Linked DNA regions of Homo sapiens: region 2 is linked to region 1. Evidence: fine-mapped expression QTL. A gene starts in region 1. The other region holds a variant in brackets. All regions are shown on one strand. Distances are between the middles of the regions.

Region 1 (11,189 bases):
GACACTTAAAATGAATGTATCTTATCAGATGTAAATTACACCTTAATAAAGTTGATTTTAAAAACTATTATTGCATATACATTAGAAGCAATTAGATAAGAACACTTTACATACAGTACCTACAAATTCCACAGTTTTCACAGTGATACTGCTTCTTATCTTTGTCAAACAAATGGCATATATCGCAATAATATTCTCCAAACAATGTGCTACATTCTTCACAAGTCTGTTGGGCCTAAAAAAGAAACATAATTAAAAACTGCAATAAACTAAACATTTTGAGTTACCATTTGAATATCTAGAACTTATGTTCAACTATATGCAGTTTATTTTTATAAGTTTTGAAACACCTAAACCAAAGATATTGCTTATTCTAGAAGTTAAAGAAATCTTATTTATGATACTTTTGATTAAATTTTTTCAAACCACCTTAATACAGCTTTTAAAAAGAAAATAGAAATGTCATAAAATCTTACATGTTGAATTTTTTCACAGTTTATGCACTGCACTTCCTTCACTTTAAAGCGATCTAGTTGATGATCTTCATTGTTATCATGACACAAGCGGCAAGTATAAAGCTTGTCACAGCAAGGTGCCTAACACCCACGGAGAAAAAAGAGATATAGTAAGAAGCAAAAGAAACTAAGTGTGCAATACAAAAAGAAAATTTCTTCCTCCTCCTCCTGGATGGAACTGAAAGATTACAACCAATAGATCAGTTGCTAAACTGATCCTAAACATAACATTTCACTAGTTTCTTGGCATATTTTATGTTAATTCTTCCCTTCAACATCACTACGTCTGTATGAAGTTGAACACAACTTTAAAACAAAAGAATTATGAAGGAAATCCCTAGATTGAAACACTAATCCCACAACACCTGATATGCTTTGGCTGTGTTCCCACCCAAATCTCAACTTGAAATGTATCTCCCAGAATTCCCACGTGTTGTGGGAGGGACTTAGAAGGAGGTAACTGAATCATGGGGGCCAGACTCTCCCGTGCCATTCTCGTGATAATGAATAAAATCTCATGAGATCTGATGGGTTTATCAGGAGTTTCCACTTTTGCTTCTTCCTCATTTTCTATTGCCACCACCATGTAAGAAGTGCCTTTTGTCTCCCGCCATGATTCTCAGGCCTCCCTAGCCATGTGGAACTGTAAGTCCAATTAAACCTCTTTTTCTTCCCAGTCTTGGGTATGTCTTTATCAGCAGTGTGAAAACAGACTAATATAACACCCCAATTTCATTCTGAGCCTAAACAGCAAACAGGCAACCTCTTCTTAGACATTTCCAGATAAATTCATTTACATTAAAAATAATAAAGATTATATTCTTATTTTACTAGCTTTTATTAATCATCAACCTCATATCTAATATTGCACAAAATGCAACAAATGTAAGAGACAGCCCTTGTTTTCAAACACGGCAAAGACTGCCAGTTGTCCACCAAAATCTATCCTCTCCTTCCTGGGCACAATTGTTCAGCTATATCAGACAGATGGCCACATGCCCTAAAACATGACAAAATGATACAACAGAAAAATCTCATCCCTGGAGTGACCATGTGGAGCAAAGCCTCATCACCAACCTGCATCACTCGCCTTGGAATTGTTAAATGGAAAGAAATAAAACCTTTACTCTTTAATCTACATCACTGTTGGGTTTTTTCATTACAGCAACTTTACCATTACAAGTATATCAAGAGATTTCCAGGCCAGTGACTTTCCAATACACTGTGACCTTGCAGATCCACTCATTTCTGAAGGCTTCCTATGCCTTGACTTACCATAACGTAGTTCATTCCTTAAAGATTTTAACACTTAACTGGCTTCCTTTTTCTGCAACTCTCAGTTCCTTAACTTTGTCATTTCCAATAACCTTGTCCTCCAACCCACTATTCTCATAGTTATACCGCAGAACAGTAGTTCTCAAATGGTTTGGTCTCAGGATCCCTTCACACTTTTTAAAATTACTGAGAATCCCAAAGAGCTTTGGTTTATGTGGATTTTATCTATTGACATATACCACATCATAAATTAAAAAGAATAGGTTTTTAAAATATTACTTCTTTTTAAAAGTAACAAACTCATTACTTGTTAACATAAATAACATGTTTTAATGAAAAATAACTATATTTTTCCCCCCAAACAGCTGAATTCTTCTATCTGCTTATGCATTCAAACAGTTGTGGCTGAAGTACAAAAAGAAACTCTGGCCTCACACAAATATGTACACTGGAAAAGAAAGGAGTATTTTAATAGCCTTTTTGGAGAATTATGGATATCATTCTCTGATATTACACTAGAACAACAACTCTTAAAGGGTAGTTGCAACATGAAATCTGAAATCGTATCAAGGAATATGATTGATATGATGCCTCTTTTCTTCCTTGGTTACATTAAAATCTATTGCTCTATCTTGCACTTCAAATGGATGTTTTACTCATGCATTGGTCATCTGGAGAATACCAGTTCAGTGAGTTATTTACATCTTCTAAATGTTCACACATTTAACATGCAATATCAAAAAATCATATTCATTAAAAGTCTTTAGGTATTGAAGAAAATCTCACCAAAAAAAGTCTTTTAAAAAGCTTCCAACCTCACAAAAGCTAGTAAAAGTTTTCCAAAATTCTAATTTTTGTGTGAAAGCTTGAATTTTATCACTGGCAACAAATACTGTCATTTTCATTTGTAGTGAGTCTCACTTTTCTCCTTTTTGAGAAAATGTCTGCCAACTACCCAAATGTGAATGACTACAATTTTTTCAAGTAAAAAATGCTGTTCCATGAAAAAAAGCAACTAGTTCACTTTACAATCCAATTTGCACAAGAGCTTTTCCTCAAGACAACCCTCTAATTTCAGTTTGCAGAAGTGTTTGATCAAAACTTCCCATGTCATTGAACAGCATATTAAAAGATATATTCAAGGGTTGAGATTTGGTTAAAATTAACGATTTTACTGCTTTATCAACATTTTTAAGTGAAGCTGGCTTTTTAAAAAAACTATAGGTGTAGTATAGTTCAGTGCCACTGTCTTGATTCAAGCTAAGATACTAGCAATACTAAACAGTGCTTTTCCACCATCAATGCGTGTGTCAACAGACTGAAAAAAAAAAAAAACAAATATCTTAGTGTTCATAGAAAGTAGTTTTGGCCTTGCAGAGCCCCTGAAAGGACTTCAGGAATCCCCAGGGTTCCATTCACCACACTTTGAAAACCAATGCTACAGAACAACGGCACCCTCTTTGCATCTCAATTCCAAGCATGAAATTCTCTAACCATTACCTCCTCCCTAACTTACTCCAAGTCTCCCCTTGCAACACCCTAGTTCCCTTCTCAGTTCCTCTACACTCATAGATAACAATCCCAACCCTAGTTAAATCCTATTTGACTTCTATCAGAAGCAGGTGAATATGGCTAGAGAAAAAGCATCACCGTCCTTGCTGGTTCATATGAGGTGGACACTTACTACCACGTTTCCCTGGTCAATTCTCTCATTCTTCCAGAGTCTAAGACCTAAGATTTAGATGATCATTTCACTTCTTCTCCTCTGGCTTTAAAACTCTAACAACTCTTCCTCCTTAACACTCTGCTGATGACCTTATTTCACTATAAAAACAGTAAACATACTTCCTGCTGACAGGCCTGAAAAGAACATCCTCCTATTATCTCTATTAACTTACTTGCAAATATACCTCATTCTCTGCCTTCCCTTAGGAAGAACTGACAGTCTATGTTTCTAAGGCCAACTCCTTCACTTGTGCACTGGATTTCATCCCCTTTGGCTACTCAGGGACAATGCCCTTACAGTTTTCTCACTCTCTCCTGCATTATAAAACGTTCTCACTCTATTGTATCATTTCCTAGAATATACAAACATGCTGTAATACTTCCTCTCTTAAAGAGGAAAAAATATGGTGCCAGATCTCCCAGCAACCACATCTTTTTTTTGCTCCCCTTTACAGCTAAACCCCAAGAATACCCTATAAGTGCTATTTTCAATTCCACTCCTCCCATTCTTTCCTAAATTCACTCTAATCCTGATCTCTCCACTAAAACTCCTCTTGTCAAGATCACCAGTGACCTCTTCCTTGCCAAATCCAAAGGGCAATTCTCAGTTATCTTACTCAAACAGCTGCATTTGACCCAGCTGACCACATCCTCCTTGAAATACTTCACTTGGCCTCTGGTATTTAAGGGGGGGGGGGGGGCGGGGGAAGGCAAAAACTGTTTGACACCTAGGGCGAAGTATCTTAGTGCTATGATACACAGATCTAATTGTGTGGTTTATGGGGGGCACCAAGATGTTAAATTCCGTTTTAGACCTCAAGTTTGAAAGAATAATAATACATCTCAGTAGAAATTGAATCATAAGGATAGCATTCAATTTCCTTACACAACACTTGGTGGATGACCAACATTTTTAAGGAGCTTCATCCAGTTCAGTGGAGCAATGTTCGTCAAGCCATGACCTATAGAAAAGAGTTTAGGATGCACGTACAGGCCTGAGACTTGAACTTGCTTCTAATAATGAGGCAGTGACCAGCAAGGCTGACTTGTGAAGTGAAAGAACAAAAAATAATAATACTCAGATTGACGATGATAGTAACAGTCATGGTGGTATATATTTACTACTCATTTACTTCAGGGAATGCGCCCTGTTAAACACTATACACGCCCTTTAGTATATAATCCTCATACACTTTTATGAAACAGGCGCGATCATCTCCATTTTACATACGGGGTAGAGAGGAGCTAGCTAAAATCAGTTATTAAAGAGGAGAGCTAAGATTTGGGGATAGGGCGGTTGAGGTTCCAAAGCTCAAGTTTTCTAAGCAAAATTTTTGTACTGTTTCTTGCAAGGAAAATCAGGAAACTTCAATTGAATACGTGCCAATTTAAAAAAAAATACAGATTAAGAAGTTTTCTCAGAGTAACAATACATGCTTATTAGGCACTTTCCTATGCATAATTTCCTATTTAATGGCAATTACATGATTGTCTTCTTTTTTGGGACACACGTTTTCTCCTACGTCTGAACATGTGCACTGCCTTTAACATGAAGCTGGCAGGCTATAAAACTTTACCACAGGAGCTGAAATCGTATTCGGGTTCTCCACTTGCTTATTTCCATTATCTCCACTTCCATTATTTCATCACACACCTGAACGGAAAACCCCAGTACAGGCCCGGGGCTGCCTCAGTCTACTTCGGCAGCAAAAGACGAATAAGCCCACTGGCAGAGACCACTGTGCAAGCCTAATCACTTCCCAAGAAGGGTTTTGCTTTAAAGGTACGAAGCAGGTAGGAAAGGTGGGGCTTATCGCCTTGCCAAAAACGTTCTCCTCAAGAAGAACCCAGTTCCAGGTGGAAAAGGTATCCTGAAAATCAGGTTAACCTCAAACTTAAATCCAAGCCTAACCACCTGCCCAGCCCGCCCCAGCCCAACCTGACGGAAGCTTGTCAGGGAAGAGTCCATAGAAGGCGTCACCTTTAGGAGACATCCTCTGTCATAGTGCTCGCAGCCCCGCTGACCTCGCTCTTGACCGCTGGCGCCATCTTCCCGGGCCGTCGCCGCCATCTCCTCCACCTCCCCTCACATTCCACCGATCCTTCCCCCAGGATAAAAACCACGCCCAGAGAAGCTGCGCCTCTCTAGCACACCCCTCCCAGCCCCAGCGGCCACTAGCGACAATATGGCTCCTAAGCACGTGACCCGGGGCAGACGGATTTCCGGTTCCCGGGGCTACGAGGCGGAAGCGAAGGCAGACGCAGTCTCCGTCGTTGACGTTAGTCGCAGTCTTCGCTGCTAACGGTAATAACTCTTAGGTTGCCTGTTTTCCCCCAATCGCTACCCGCCCAAATCTCAGGGCGTAGTTCGGCGCGAGGTTGGCGGCAGCGGCGCGGAGACGCTGGTTGGCCCCAGAGGAAAGGACGCTCACTGGGCGCATCGTTACCTGTGACGGGTCCTCCCTCTCTCCCTCCGGTGGCGGGGAGCCTGGAGAAAGGGGCGGAGCTCGGCCCGGGCCCTGGGCTCAGCGGGTCCCGCGCGCTGCTCTTGGACGCCAGGGTGCTCGCTGGCACCTCGAAGTGCTTCTTGCTTCCTCCCTTTCCCGTTTACTTGCTGTTCTTTCAAAATATGTACTGACATTCACTATTGCCAGTCACCAGCTAAACCGTGAGGACAAAAAGTAAGGAAAAATAGACACACTCCACCATGACCTCATGGAACTAACAAGACTGGTGGAGGAGGAAGACATTAATAAGAGCAATCACTGCAATAAATGTAAGATTACAACCTGGAGAAGTGCTAGGAAGAAGTGTGTGTCCTGTGAGAGCTAATATTAGAGCAGCTCTGACAATCTGAGTGTCAGTGAGGGAAGGCTTCCCTGGGGAAGCGATGCAAGCCGAGGGCTGAAAGATGGGTAGGAGTTAGTGTGCAAAAGGCTTTGTGGCACAAAGAACATGGTACCTGTTAGAAGGTGGAAGGAAAATGTACAAGCCAACAAAATTGAAATCATACTCGGGGTACACAGCTAAATATGTTTCTCCTTATTAAAGAGTCAAGGCCCTGGAAAATGATGTAAGCAAAGCTGCAGGTGTTAGAAGAAGATATTTGTCTTTAGCTTTCTATCCTGATTTTGTGTTTCCTAAAACACCGGGAAAGGGAAAATATTCCCCTTCAGCTTTCCGGTTACTAACTCTTAACATTCTAATTTTCTTTCAGTTTTGTTATGAGTTGCTAAAATGGTGAAATGCTGCTCCGCCATTGGATGTGCTTCTCGCTGCTTGCCAAATTCGAAGTTAAAAGGACTGACATTTCACGTGTAAGATTTTGCTGTAGTTAAGCCAAATACTTTGGCCATGTTATAAAAAGCAAAAGACAGTTCTACTTAAGTCTTCAATTTTGAACTTTAGTTCCCGAGTCCTTTTTAAATAACCTTTTTGTTAAATTTGAAGTGACAATGTGATACCTTTACATGTTTATAATTTAGTTTAAAAGTTTTAAGATATCAGAGACTTTAAGATATCAGAGACTGGTTTACAAAAAATACCATAAGGCTAACTTTTGCTAATATTATTACTTTGTATTTTATCACACCGCCAAAGAAATTCAATGTTGTTTACATGTAGTTTACAATCTGAATGAAGGAGCTTTGCTCGAATATATTGCCCTCTCTATTTAGAAGTAGATCAAGCATAGGTTATAGAGAAAAAATACAAATTACAAGTTAAGACCAAGGGATCTTTAGCTGTGTTGCAAATAAATCAAAATGATTTTAGTTTCATATTTTAGCCATTCTCTTGACAGCCATGAAGGAGTAAGTGAAGGAGTAATAAGATTTAATAGTTGTTCACTTGTTAAAGGTTTATTTTGCTGCTTTTGTGCCAGGCACTGTCCTATGTGTTAGAGAAAGATCTCCTAGCTATTTTGTTAGATATAATAAATCAAAACTGAGCATATATATCCTACCTTATTTTAGAAAAATTTGAACCAGCTTGAAAATTGAGTAAGATATGGCTATTAGGCCTTCATATCTCTCAAAATAGCTCTGATCTCCAGAACTCCACACTGCAGCTATTCTCTGCATTCATTCACTAAGCATCTGTAGACCTGCTATGTATTAAATGCTGTACTAAGCAATTTTCTGGTGCTGACAGAAGAATGGAATTACAAGGGGCCCTTTTTATCGAGGATAAATTCTGGATATCATTTCAGATAGGAAAAGGCCCAAGTGATAATTCTTTTATCATCTATAGATGAATAAATACCTTCAATTGTGGATCTTACTATAAGATGCTAAATATCCATTGAAACTTTTCTTCCTTATAATGTGAGAAAAAATGAAATGAGGGCCATATATCTGCAGCATGATTGGCAGAAAATCTGAATATTAAAACGGAAAGTAACAAAAGCATGAATTATGGTTTCCTAAATATTATAATTCTCAAGACTAATAAACTAGTTAACGAATCAATTTAGTCACAGTTGTATAAGGCAGCTTTAATTCAATTATATAGCAATAGTATTTGATTTTAAAATATTTTTTGTATTTTTTTTCTAGATTCCCCACAGATGAAAACATCAAAAGGAAATGGGTATTAGCAATGAAAAGACTTGATGTGAATGCAGCCGGCATTTGGGAGCCTAAAAAAGGAGATGTGTTGTGTTCGAGGCACTTTAAGAAGACAGATTTTGACAGAAGTGCTCCAAATATTAAACTGAAACCTGGAGTCATACCTTCTATCTTTGATTCTCCATATCACCTACAGGTTTGTTTATGAGATACTGTTTACCATCATTGCTCACTTTTTTTTTTTTTTTTTTTTGAGATAGAGTCTCGCTCTGTCACCAAGGCTGGAGTGCAGTGGCGCGATCTCAGCTCACTGCAATCTCTGCCTCCAGGGTTTAAGCAATTCTCTGCCTCAGCCTCCCGAGAAGCTGGGATTACAGGCACCTGCCACCACACCTGGCTAATTTTTGTATTTTTAGGAGAGATGGCGTTTCACCATCTTGGCCAGGCTGGTCTTGAACTCCTGACCTCGTGATCCACCCTCCTCGGCGTCCCAAAGTGCTGGGATTACAGGCATGAGCCACCGTGCCTGGCCATTGCTCACTTTTTATGATACTATTGAAGAACCTTCACCACTCTTGCTAACATTTTTATTGTTTGCTTATTCATTTGAAGTCTGTTCTTGAAGTTTTAAATTTGTAGACTGCATCTTCAACTTTTGTAATGTGTAGTAGGAGTATTTTACCAGTAACCACTCATAAATATTTGTATATTACTAAGGTTTGATGAAGTGGGCTGACTTTAGGAATTAGCATAACTGAAGATTTTTGTCTAAAAATGGAAGTTAACGTAAGAAGGTTGAACTGATGTTCCAAGTTGGCAGTCCTTAACACTGGGGCAGAAGTCAGGAGTAGAACCACTAACAGGACTAAAGTACTTGTAAGAGCCACATACATGCAAGCATAAAGTCTAGGTAGGATCAAAAGGAAGAAAACCAAAAAAGAGATCTAAGAACAGGAGAAGAAAAGGTCAGGAAAAGAAAGAACAGTCAAATAAGTAAACGCTAATTGAATTCCATGTTTTTTCTGGGTAATATTCCCATGGGTTGGCTGCCTCACCCTCAGTATCTCTCTTGACTTTGTATACCTGAAAGTGAATTTCTAGAACCTATAGACATTGATTGATTGATTCCAATGTGGAAAATTCAGGGAGAGCCTCCATTGAAAGGGATCTCCTTCCTGGCAACTAAAAACAAGAGAAGTAGCCAAAAGCGTACCCGCTCCCATGCAGTCCTGGTCACTTTCTGCAGTTGGTCATATTGTAGAACCTGAGTGATCAGGTAGAGAATGCCTCACTTTCTTCGGTGCTAATAAATATACAGTATCTTGGGAAAGTTGGTCTAGGGCTTTTGTTTTTTTTCCTACCACCAAGGTGTCATCTAGCCGTAATGTTAAGGGGACCTTAAGAAATATGGGCATAATAAATCAAATAAACCATAAGTTACCAACTTTCAAAAACTATTGATTTTCTTATAACAAATAAATTTTTCATTTTAGAAAATAAGATTATAGGAGCAAAAATAAAATAATCACATAATCCATAGATAATACTGTGAACACTTTGATCTGTATCTTTGTAATTATCCGTAAATATGCATCTATACTTATATAGATAATCTTCTGGAAATAGAATTATACTGTATACCTTTTCCTTTATTTGCTTTATTGGGTTTTTTAAAATAGTGTGTACTATGTGCCAGGCACTATTCCAAGTACTTTACATGTCTATTAACTCAGTCCTTGAAAGAACCATGTCAGGTAAATACTATTATTATTTTCATTTTATCACTTGAGAAAACTGAGGCCCAGAGAACTAGAATGCCCTTCCCAGGGTCACACCTCTATTAAATGGCAGAGGCTAGATTTGATCCCAGGCATTTTGACTTCAGAGTCTACTATTAACTACTACTCTCCATGACATTAAATATTTTCCTACACCGTAGCTTTCAAACTTTAGTCTACGTAAGGATTATCCAGTGAGTTTGTTTAAAATACAGAATCCTACATCTTCCAGAGAATTAGATTCAGTAAATTGGAGTGTACTTTCTAAAAAAGCATCCCAATCTGTTTGTGCTGCAGATCTATGGATCACATGTTTAAGAGAAACCTATGTAGAACATCACTTTTTTTTAACTAAACTTTATGTTGAAGTAAAATATATTTGTGGAAGAGTGCTTGTAAGTGTACAAATCAATGAGTTTTCACAAAGTGGGTACACTCATGTCACTCCCCTCAGACCAAGATATAAAACATTGCAAGTGACCCAGAAGCCTCCCTCACATGCTTTCCCAGTCACTACTGTCTTGACTTTATCACTGTCAATTATATACATGGAGTCCTGTCTACAGTATGTACTCTGGCTTCTTTAGCTCAACATCTTGTATGATTCATCCACATTGTAGCATGAGATACTGGTCCATTAATTTTCTTTGCTGTATGGTATTGCATTGTACAATTTCTTCATTCTACTATTGATAAATGTTTGGGTAGTTTTTCACACTGGGGTTATTATAAATTGTGCAGCTCTGAACATTTTGGGGCACATCTTTTTTTTTTTTTTAATTATGCTTTAAGTTTTAGGGTACATGTGCACATTGTGCAGGTTAGTTACATATGTATACATGTGCCATGCTGGTGCGCTGCACCCAGTAACTCATCATCTAGCATTAGGTATATCTCCCAATGCTATCCTTCCCCCCTCCCCCGACCCCACCACAGTCCCCAGAGTGTGATATTCCCCTTCCTGTGTCCATGTGATCTCATTGTTCATTTCCCACCTGTGAGTGAGAATACGCGGTGTTTGGTTTTTTGTTCTTGCGATAGTTTACTGAGAATGATGATTTCCAGTTTCATCCATGTCCCTACAAAGGACATGAACTCATCGTTTTTTATGGCTGCATAGTATTCCATGGTGTATATGTGCCACATTTTCTTAATCCAGTCTATCATTGTTGGACATTTGGCTTGGTTCCAAGTCTTTGCTATTGTGAATAATGCCGCAATAAACATACGTGTGCATGTGTCTTTATAGCAGCATGATTTATAGTCCTTTGGGTATATACCCAGTAATGGGATGGCTGGGTCAAATGGTATTTCTAGTTCTAGATCCC
Region 2 (11,189 bases), 31 kb before region 1:
AAATGTCCATACTAGACAAAACAATCTACAGGTTCAATCCAATCCCTGTAGTATGACAGGTCCCCCACAAGGTTGCTTAAGGGTGTATGTCCACTGCCCAAATCCTGAAGGCTGGGCAATGAGTCAACACCATGGTGTGCAGGCGAGGAGCACGTATCCCTGAGAATCTAAATATTCTAGAGAGTATCTGAGAACATACCAAGAAAAACAGTCTTATTGCTCAAACACAATAGGCAAAGAGCCAGGAAATTAGCTTAAAAGCAGTTTAGAGATGGGAGGTGGCACAGAGCTCTAGTGGTGTCCTGTTGCCATCCAAGACTCTCCTGTAATTAAGTCCTAATAAACTCATCTGCTCCTCAAGCTGGACTTGTCCCAGTCATTCTTTGGTCTCTCGGCTCCTTCCCACTTTGAGTTGGAACATTATAGTCCCAGGTTTTTCTCATAACAACCCCTATCAAAATTCCAATGTCATTTTTCACAAAAATAGAAATAACAATACCATAATTTGTATGGTACCAGAGAAGACCTGAATAGCCAAAGCAATCTTAAACATAAAGAACAAAGTTGGAGGCATCACACTACCTGACTTCAAAATCTATTATAAAACAATAGTAATCAAAACAGCATGATACTGGCATAAAAACAGATATGTTGACTAGTGGAACAGGAGAGCCCAGAAATAAACCAACACACCTATAGTCAATTGGCTTTCAATAAATATGCCAACACTACACAATGAAGCCAGTCTCTTCAATAAATGGTGTTGGTAAAACTGAATATACACATGCAGAAGAATGAAACTGGATCCTTATCTCACACCACATATAAAAATCAACTCAAAATGGTTTAAAGACTTAAACATAAGACCTGAAACTATAAAACTACATGAACAAAACACAGGGGAAATGCTCCATAACACTGGTATGGGCAAAGATTTCTTGGATATAACCCCAAGAACACAGACAACAAAAAATACATGGCGCTGCATCAAACTAAAAAGCTTCTGCATAGTGAAGTGAATGATAGAATGAAGAGACAACCCATGAATTCGAAGAAAATATTTATAAATCATACATCTGATAAGGGGCTAATATCCAAAATACATAAGGTACTGAAGCCACTAATAAGAAAATGAACTCAATTAAAACATGGGCAAAGGATGTAAACAGATATTCCTAAAAAAGACACAAATGGCCAACAAATATATGAAAAGATGCTCATCATCACTAATCAGAAAAATGCAAATTAACACAAGGTATCACCTTACACCTGTTAGAATTACTATTATCAAAATGATAAAAGTGTTGACAGGGTGTAGAAAAAAGGGAACACTTGTGCACTGACGTTGGGAATGTAAATTAAAACAGCCAATATTAAAATCAGCATGGAGACAGAAAACTAAAAATAGAATTACCATATGATCCAGCAATCCCACTTCTGGACATATAGCTAAAGGAACTGAAGTCAGTGTGTCAAAGAGGTATCTGTACCACCACGTTCACTGCAGCATTATTCACAACAGCTAAGATATGGAAGCAATCTTAATGTCCATCATCATATGAATGAAAACAAAATGTGGCATATATACTCAATGGAATACTATTCAGCCCTATAAAAGAAAGAAATCCTGTCACTTGTGACAGGAACCTGGAAGACATTATACTAAATGAAATAACCCAGGCACAAAAAGGTAAATACTATGTGATCTCAGCTATCTGTGCAATCTAAAAAAAAGGTGAATTCATAGAAGTAGAATGGTGGTTACCAGAGGCTGGGAGAGAGAAGTGGATGGGAAAAGGGGAGATGCTGATCAAAGGGTACAAAATATCAGTTAGACAAGAGGAATAAACTTTACTGATCTATTACACAGAATGGTGAGTATAATAAATAATGCATTGTACATTTCAAAAATATTAAGAGTAGATTTTAAGTGGTTTTTTTACCACAAAAAATGGTATGAGGCAATAAATTTATTACATTGATTTAATCATTCTACACTGTAAACATATATCAAAACATCACATTGTACTCCATATATATAATATACACAATTATCAATTAAATTTTAATAACACAAAGGACAAAAGAAAAAGTGGCATAGTTTTGAACAACTCCCATTTAAAATTAATTCATTTCAAATTAAACTATTCAACTAGTGAATACCTATTGCCAGGCACTTATAAAATAATGTTGGCTCTTTAGTACTTAGTAAATTTATTTTGATGCATGACCAAAATAAAAGGGAAATTTAACATGTATATCATATGAAAATAGGTTTTAGTGAAGAAATAAAAACTGAGTTTGATTTTAAAATCCATGACACTATAAACAAACTACTACTTCCAACATAAGCTAAAGTTAATTCATAAAGAGTTCTATGTACTGGTTAAGAAGACCCCAGAAACTAAGAAATGAACAACTTGATATACACTCATTTTTTTTTTATACATACATCTTTAATGATAAAAGAAGCTGAGATGCTATGCACCAAAAAATTCGTAAGGGTATTGTTATTTTACTTTTTTCAAAAATAATCCAAATAAACTATAGATACAAATTCTGCGGCAGGGCAACCTAACTTATTTCAGGGACAGATAATTCTAGTGTACTTAAGATCTGTCTAAGTATTTAACATTCCTGTAAGCATTATAAAAAAGAATAGGAAAAGAATGAAGTTGTCTGTTAAAATGTTAACAGTAGTTCTCTCTGAAAGAAGGGATTGTTGAGAGTTTTTTACCTTCTTTCTTATAGAGGTATAACCTATACTTATGAAGTCAGAGAAAGAAAAAATATTTAAGGGTAAAGTTATGTATTTTAAGTTTTGCATACTGAATGGTAAGGGATGTAGATTTTATTCTTATTGTGAATGAGAAGTGTTGAAGGATTTTAATCATCGAGTTGACGTGTCATGAACAAATACTTGAAGCAACCCTGGGTACCGAAGCCTAGAGACTTTGAGTACATTTGAAAATTGCTTTAAGTGCATGACTAGACAGCATAAACGAGTGATTGCATATGTACTCTGCATTATTTTGGACATGTTTGGATCCTAAGTTAAAGAAACAATCAGATTGTGAAATAAGACTTTCTAACTAGAGTCACCTAAAAAAATGAAAGGTTAATCTATCAAATCATGAGCGCTTCAATGATATGGATGACTAGCTGTGAGGGGTATTTTAGCAAAATAGAAGTTTAGATCAAAAGCAATGTGGTAAAAGTGGGTTTGGAGTCAAACTTGGATCTGATTCCCAACTCCAACATATAGTGTCTGTTATTTACCCCCAATGTGTCATTTTAACCTCTAAACCTCAGCTTTCTTGTCTATGAGGACAACACTTACCCCACAGAATCATTGTAGTAATTAATGCTAATGCATGACCCAGCACAGATGTTGAAAACAGAAGAGCCTTATTATTATATACTCACTCCTATTTAAAGATCCAATGATTCAATGATTAAAAACAATAACATGATTGGTTTGGCAGAATAATACCAAACATAAAAAGTAATACATCTGGACCAAGCACAGTGGCTCATGCCTGTAATCCTAGCCCTTGGAAGGCCGAGGTAGGAGAAATGCTTGAGCCCAGGAGTTCAAGACCAGCCTGGACTTTGTTTCTACAAAACAATTAAAAATTAGCTGGGCATGGTGGCACACACCTGTAGTCCCAGCTACTCAGGAGGCTGAGGTGGAAGGATCAGTTCAGCCCAGGAAGTCAAGGCTGCAGTGAGCTACGATCACTTCACTACACTCTAGCCTAAATGACAGAGCAAAACCACTTCAAAAAAAAGTATTAGATCTGGAAAACTAGTCTTTACTTATCTGTATACTAATTGGTAATACCCAGGAACATCCTTTCCCAAATGAAGATCAGCACTGCTGCTCTGGCCAGGCCAAGGAAACAGATGAAGGGAAAGAACATAAGAAGAGTGGAATACAGAAGACAAGAAGGTGGGATAAAATAAAGATCTGAGTCCCAAACTGCTGCCTTTATCTAGGTGAATAAATTTCAACAAAAGAAGAAATAAATGTGCCAGAACTCTTAGGCTTTCTAGTTAAAAGGCTAACTTCCTTATTCAAAGAAGATTCAAATAGCTCAAAGTTGGAAATACAACTGGTGCTCAATAGGTACTTATCAACTGATAAATGTACATTTTACATCCTAGCCTAATGGTAAAGCTATTACGGAGATAACAGTGTCAAAGTCGGCTGGATCATCAAACATATTTGTTAACTTTGTTCCTGAAGTAAGAGGTATATTTAATTCCACTACATGAGCCCAAAAAAGTATTATGAAATCAGAGATCTTGCCAGGAATATCCCATGCCCTTCCCACTCATCCATCCCCTATTTTCACACGCTTAGGGAAGAAATATTCTATTCATTTACAATAAGACATCCACTCCTTGCATAAAGAAAAATGAGTACATTGATCAAATATGATGAACAATAGAATGTACTGCTGTGAGGACAAGGACTTTTATCTTTATTGTTCACTGTTGTCTCTACAGCATCTAGAAACATATCTGCCACATAGCAGTTGCTCAATAAATACTTGCTAAATGAAGGAATGAATGACTCTTTGAAGAAATAATTTTGGGCAACCTAAAAAAAACTGTTTTCAATGTTGATGTTTTTATTAAGGCTTTGGAAGAGTCTTATTATTTTACATAATAATTTTCCCAACTACTTTTATGGAATACCTCAAAAGAAAGAAAATTTCTTTTACATTATAGAACTGATGATACTGCCCTAATTGAGCCAAACATAGAAAACTTTGGAAAAAACTTTCTATAAAACAGTTTCAATATAATTTTATTAGCAGTTATTACATCAAAATTCACATTTAGAGGATCCAGAGGACTGTCTTAGAAAATTCTAAAGCATATTTAATTAGGTTTTAACAGTAAGGGAGAACTTAATATAACACAGCCCTTAAAAAGTCAAGACTACTACTGAAAATTAAGTGCAGTTCTATCAAGAACTAGAAATGAACTGCACGCGTAGTGTCACTTAAAGCAAAGCTTCATGAAAATATAATACACTTCTATGAATGTATCAGTGGCAAACATCATTGGCTTCCAAAAAACTGACACTAAAGGAATTTCCAATCAAAACACAAGCACAGTGGCTTTCATTCAATATAGAGCTATGATAAGTCTATCAAGAGACCCTGAATCCTTACGTACTTGTAATATGATTTTATGCTGTGACACTAGTACAAAACACATCAACTCTAATGCATAGATGACGACACATGATAACACGATACCAAGGAAAGCCTTTTTCTATATCAGAAAATGCCAAGTTCTCCAGTACTGTGTAGGCTCGTCATTGCTGATCCAGTGAAATTCTACGTCCTCCAGCTTGAGCAGTATTATAGGATTCACAAATCTTACATTTCATGCCTAATATATGAAACTGAACAGTGGATCGTCCATTACAGTCATTGCAGAGAATCTGAAAAGAGATTAATTCAAATTAAGTATTTTAAACCTTATAAATACAAGTAGCATTGTCTACTCATAATCCCTTGAAAATCATATTAAAGATGTGAAAATACATACATAAGTCTAAAAATTTCCAAAAGTAGAAATTTCTTCTTATTTTTTCACTGAAAACTCTAAAAAGCTATTAAGGTGGCTCTGAATTCAGAAAATGAAAAGGCAGATTTGAG[C/CA]AAAAAAAAAGCTTATTTTAAAATAGTTTCCAAATATTAAATAGTATAAATAGTACAAGCAAGAAAATTAACCTAGGCATAATCAGATGAATACCTGATACTTATAATTCAAAATAACAACATGATTTCATTATTTTTCAGTCAGAAATGTATCTCAATTAATAAAACCAAAATTTTTACACAAATAATATTTTTGCTTATTTTTTAGGTTTAGTATACTGTTCCCTGTCTTCTCTGCCTTAGGAATGAATTAAATTCCAAAAAGAGTGTTCCTAAAATTGAGTAAACAGAGAGGCTCTTCGCTCATCCCTACAATAACAATAAGATGCCGTTTAAGAATTAATTTCTTCTAGTGCTAAGTAAGAACCTGAAAAATAACAAAGGTGTTAACCTGAAAATCAATACATTACTATGCAAGAAAAGCACTAGTTTTTGAATAGTCACACTATAATAAGCAGAAAATTTCCAAATTTGCTCTAAATTATAATTTGGAAAATAATTATTTAAAAAATATGATCTAAATGGAGAAAGTGGATTAGTGGTTGCCTAGGCCTGGGGCGTTAGGGAATGACTGCTAATGGGTATGAGTGTTTCCTTTTTGGGATGATAAAAATGTTCTAAAATTGTGGTGATGTTTGCATAACTACATGAATATTTTAAAAAGCACCAAATTGTACAATTTAAATGAATGAACTATATAATATGTGAATTGTATCTTAATGAAGCCATTATTTCCAAAAATTATCTACATGGAACATAGCACACTTCGGCCTCTAGTCAATCACATGATTATCGGTTAGTATTCCAAAAGTGATTTTTCATTGCCCTAACAATTATCCACATGAATTATGAAACACTCCAGTGTAAATAAAACAAAAAATAATTTTCATTTGGCTTTGCTACGTGGTTTTTATCCTCGTATGCTGAAGTATCTGAAGATGTTCAGAAAATGTGTAATATAACCAAAAATTATCTAGCCAGAATACTAGGCTTTCCCATTCTAATCTAAAACTCAATACCATGTATGGCTGAGAAGAGACAGCAACACATCTTAATTAAACGAAAAAAGATGATCACTCTCCATAAGCCAAAAGGCACAGAAACAACCTTTTATGCTTTAGGTTGCAAGCTAATTGCAACCAAATAAAGAAAGTCAAGACCCTCTGAATCTATTCTGGTTCAGGGCTGCCTGATTCACAAACTGTTTCTCAATTAAGTTCTGTTAAATTTAATTTGTGTAAGGTTTTGCTTCAAACAGCTGGCATCAGAAGTGGGATTTGAAGTACAGCTTTCAGTGACCGCCAGGAGCACCAAGGGGACCCAGTAAGGTACCGTTAGGCCCTTTGTGTCCACTGCTCTCTTGCAGCCATTAGGAATCATGGTAAGTTCTCAGATTCTAAAGCTCTGCGCATTTGTGTTTTGAGCTATCCAAGTTTTTTTGAACACATTTTCTATCTGAACTGAATTCAGAAGTCGCAACAAAAACTGGACTGGGTCCAGGATCCAACTGCCTTGGATCTAGCTAAAGACCTCTTATGCCTGACTGGGTCGGGCAGAAGCACAGTAAATGGCAAAACAGCAGGGGGTGGGGGTGCAAATTTTGGCTTTTGGAAATTCACAGGGTTTTTTGTGTCCTGCCCTCTTCAATTCTTCTTCTTGCACATTTAAGTAGAGAAAAATCACTGGTTAAGTTTACCAAGGAAATATGAGAGCCAAAGCCAAGATTCAAGGTGAAAATGGGATCCTTAATTTCTGAAGAACTGAGCAATCTACCTTCTGGCTCTGCCTACATTTACAAGTGTAAGTATTAGGCCCCAGAAGCAGCACTTTTTAAACATTTTATAGAAGGATAAAATGCCATTTGCTTATAGAAATGGCAAAACCTTACTAAAAGTAATTTAAAATTATAATGGAACGTCCCAAATGAACACTTAAAACTACACTTTAAGAAGTGCATTTGATGATGGCCATAAGCTGTTAAAAACCAAACCAAAAAAAAAAGTGCATTTGAAAATGAGGGCTCCCAAATTAGACTCATCTAAGAATGCCTATTGAGTGAAGCTTCTAAAAATATTTCAATATTTTTATTGCCTTAAAAAAAAGATGTTTTAAAAGGCAAATAAAAAGCTTAACTAACTGATAAGACAAATTAAATCTACTAGCCTTTTGGCTTAGTTACTATACTGCCCTGAAGGCTAAAAGAAAGCTAGCCTGGATTAAATGTTTATAAAATATAGGCCCTTAGGTAAAGCTGACTTGCCTCTTTTTCAGATCTATCCATACTGTGCCCAGGCATGGACATGGACACTAAGATACTTCTGTTTAATTTCTGAGTAAACTGCAAACAATAAAAAAGAACGCTGTCTTTCCCCTACTGTCTTAGTGGGCTCCACCCTGAACTCAGTAATTTTAGCTAAGAAACAGTAGTTAAATTTTTAAAAACGATCTATGGAACTAAAGTATACCTTTCTGGCATTCAACTGGCTATACTGAAGGCTATCCTGAAACCCTTTTGGTAAAATCAATTTATATCTATAAAGGAAATTTACATTTGTAAAGGTGTCTGTGTACATTAGGAACTCTTATCACTATTTTAAATTTATATAGTAAGTCATACCTTTGTTTAAGGTGACTGGCCATCTTGTCTTAACTTTTACTCACACCATTTTTTCCTTGGTTTGAGCAAATGATGGTACAATATTTACGTCTAAAGTCTTAGCTGTGTGCTTTTGAGATATACATTTTCTACCTTGTTTGACCTAAGAATTGGCCCTTTAGAAATGCATATTTAGGGCTGCCTAGCTAACAATTGCTTAGGGCAATGAAACAGGTTAATTGGTAAACTGATAGTCTGAATGGTGAATAGAAAAACTATTTAAAAGCCAGCAAATGAGAATCCTTTAGGAAAGCTCTAAGATCTGCTTCTGTCTGTGTCTGTATTCCTATAGGTGTTATGTGTATGTGATAACATTTGGTAAATAAAGCCAGTTTTTATATTGTTAGTAAATAGGAATGGCTTCAGAGGTGTCTGTTGAATATAATTCAACACTTGCTTGATTTGACTGTGAGCTTGTTTTGGGTTTTGAACCTCTAGATTCTCAAGTCTGGCTAGGTGAGACCTGGGTACATGTTCTCAGTGCCTAGACCTGTAGCTACAAAGCAGAATCAAGCCCACTAGAGCTTCTTCTTCCCTGTCTTAGCTTTGCCTCCTGGCTATTCTAGGAGGGGTTCCATCCTCCAAGCATCATCTTTACAGCTCTGTCTTCTGTTCAAAGCTCTGTAAGTGGTACGTAAATTCAGGACTCAGACAGGCTCTGCCCTTCATAGCCCTCCTGGTTGACATATGACTACTTGAGACTCAAGATGACTGAGAAAACATTCGGGAGGGTACATCTGTGTCCTAATTTCAAATTTTTTTTCAGTAATTTAAAATCTTATAGTCATATGTTTAAGTAAATAATCATAAAACTTTTAAGTCATTTATAAGTTAAAATGCTAAAACATTAATTATAAGTTTAAGTTTATATACTTTGGCATCTTATTTTTATATAGTATAGAAAAACTAAATATATTTAGATATCTTAATAAATAATAATTTAAGGAAACATCCTTCCAAAAAATTAAAATGGCTTCCATCTATAAATACTGATACAAAACAGTTCAAAATTACTTCCTAGGGTTTTCACTGGAAATTAGGATTACTAAGAGTTAAAACTGTAGTTAATATATGTAATTAAAACTACTAGATGTAAGAAAAACAATTCCCTATAAGGAGTGTAAAAACAAGCAAGATATACTTTTGGTAAGACAAGTTGCAAAGGCATGTATTTAAAAAAATTCAGCTTCAGGAGGCCAAGGAGGCCAAGGCGGGTAGATCACAAGGTCAGGAGTTTGAGACCAGCCTGGCCAATACAGTGAAACCCCGTCTCTACTAAAAGTACAAAAATTAGCCAGGCGTAGTGGTGTGCGCTTGTAGTCCCAGCTACTCGGGAGGCTGAGGCAGAAGAATTGCTTAAACCCTGGAGGCAGAGGTTGCAGTGAGCCAAGATTGCTCCACTGTACTCCAGCCTGGGTGACAGAGAAAGACTCCGTCTAAAAAAAAAATTTTGGTCTAGTTTGAAGTTACTTAACGGTTGTTTCAAATTGAAGGAATAAAAAAGTGTAGATTAAAATACAGAACGTTCAAAAGAAAGAATTTTAAAAGTTTATAAGGGAATATAAAAGATTTATGGAAATCTTACGTGGTAAAAAACTGACAGATTGGATGGATTTGTTTACAAGGTTTTATTAAAATTCGCTTTAGTCCTAACAATACAAAAGTAAAATCTGGTTTTCTCTCTTGAACAAAGATTTCATGTAGTATTAATAAGACAGTTAAATATTTTTGTTTACTTTTGGGTAAATTTCAAACAATAAAAAGAGGAGACAAGGGGAAACAGATTTTGTCTCACGCTGTCTCAGGACTTTTAATTGTTTAGAAAACTGAGTTTCGAAGAGTAAAGGTTTTTGCTTTTTAAAACCTGTTAATTCTCATATTGGCTATATAAATGACTATATATAAATATATATATAGTCATATATATATTCACAATATATATAGTCATATATATTCATAATATATATATTCATAATATATATATTCATAATATATTCATAATATATATATTCATAATATATTCATAATATATATATTCATATATATATTCATAATATATATTCATATATATTCATAATATATATATTCATAATATATATATTCATATATATTCATAATATATATATTCATATATATTCATAATATATATATTCATATATATATTCATAATATATATTCATATATATATTCATAATATATATTCATATATATATTCATAATATATATATTCATATATATATTCATAATATATATATTCATATATATATTCATAATATATATTCATAATATATATATTCATAATATATATTCATAATATATATATTCATAATATATATTCATAATATATATATTCATATATATATTCATATATATAAATGTGATCCTATTTTGGTCAAGTATTTTAAATCTTCGACACACTTGACAAGCTTCCCAAAATCAAATTTCAACTTCAAAATTAAGTCTTTTTTTTTTACCTCTAACTTTGGCATGCTACAAAGGGCCCCTGCGGTATTCAAAAGAGAAAAAAATGATTATTTGATCTGTTAAATTACATAGGAAGCACTGTCAAATAAGAAATGATATTTAACCTTTGTGTTATATTTTTATTAAGATTTATTCCAAAATTATATGAGATTCTAAAATTCTTTATGTCGGGGTATATGCTATCAGTCTTAATTATGGTTACTGTGTTATTGCAGGCCACAGAAATAACCAAATTTCCTTGTCAATCATGTCTTTAACTATAACCATTTTAAGTTGTTTCCACAGTTAACTGCTTAATTCTGATGCAGTTTCTCTGAAAACTAGACAAGCAAGCAAAATCCTACAGTACTGTGTCTTCAAGGAGGTTCATG

Alleles and levels. Alleles are on the strand shown, and positions count from the first base shown. SD is a standard deviation of normalised expression in the study named.
As copies of CA replace C in region 2, the expression in non-classical monocytes of the gene that starts at base 5,703 in region 1 goes up (large effect, 1.4 SD a copy in Schmiedel 2018).

What was found. PIP is the estimated chance that this variant, and not a neighbour inherited with it, causes the effect.
Region 2: its variant is fine-mapped to the expression of RCHY1 in non-classical monocytes (Schmiedel 2018, PIP 0.95).

Annotation. Positions count from the first base shown.
Region 1 is chr4:75,508,701-75,519,889 of GRCh38, forward strand. It overlaps RCHY1 (ring finger and CHY zinc finger domain containing 1), which reads right to left and starts at 5,703. Exons shown (of 9, transcript NM_015436.4): 1 at 5,497-5,703; 2 at 477-596; 3 at 120-235. The coding sequence starts at 5,586. THAP6 (THAP domain containing 6) reads left to right here and starts at 5,773. Exons shown (of 5, transcript NM_144721.6): 1 at 5,773-5,820; 2 at 6,733-6,832; 3 at 8,072-8,279. The coding sequence starts at 6,753. RefSeq lists enhancers at 4,812-5,742, 5,429-5,908, 5,743-6,673, 6,249-6,468.
Region 2 is chr4:75,477,206-75,488,394 of GRCh38, forward strand. RCHY1 (ring finger and CHY zinc finger domain containing 1) reads right to left here. Exons shown (of 9, transcript NM_015436.4): 9 at 1,828-5,461. The coding sequence ends at 5,333. Among named protein-coding and RNA genes, the nearest start is that of RCHY1, 32 kb to the right of the region's middle. The variant C/CA (reference allele first, on the strand shown) is at 5,679.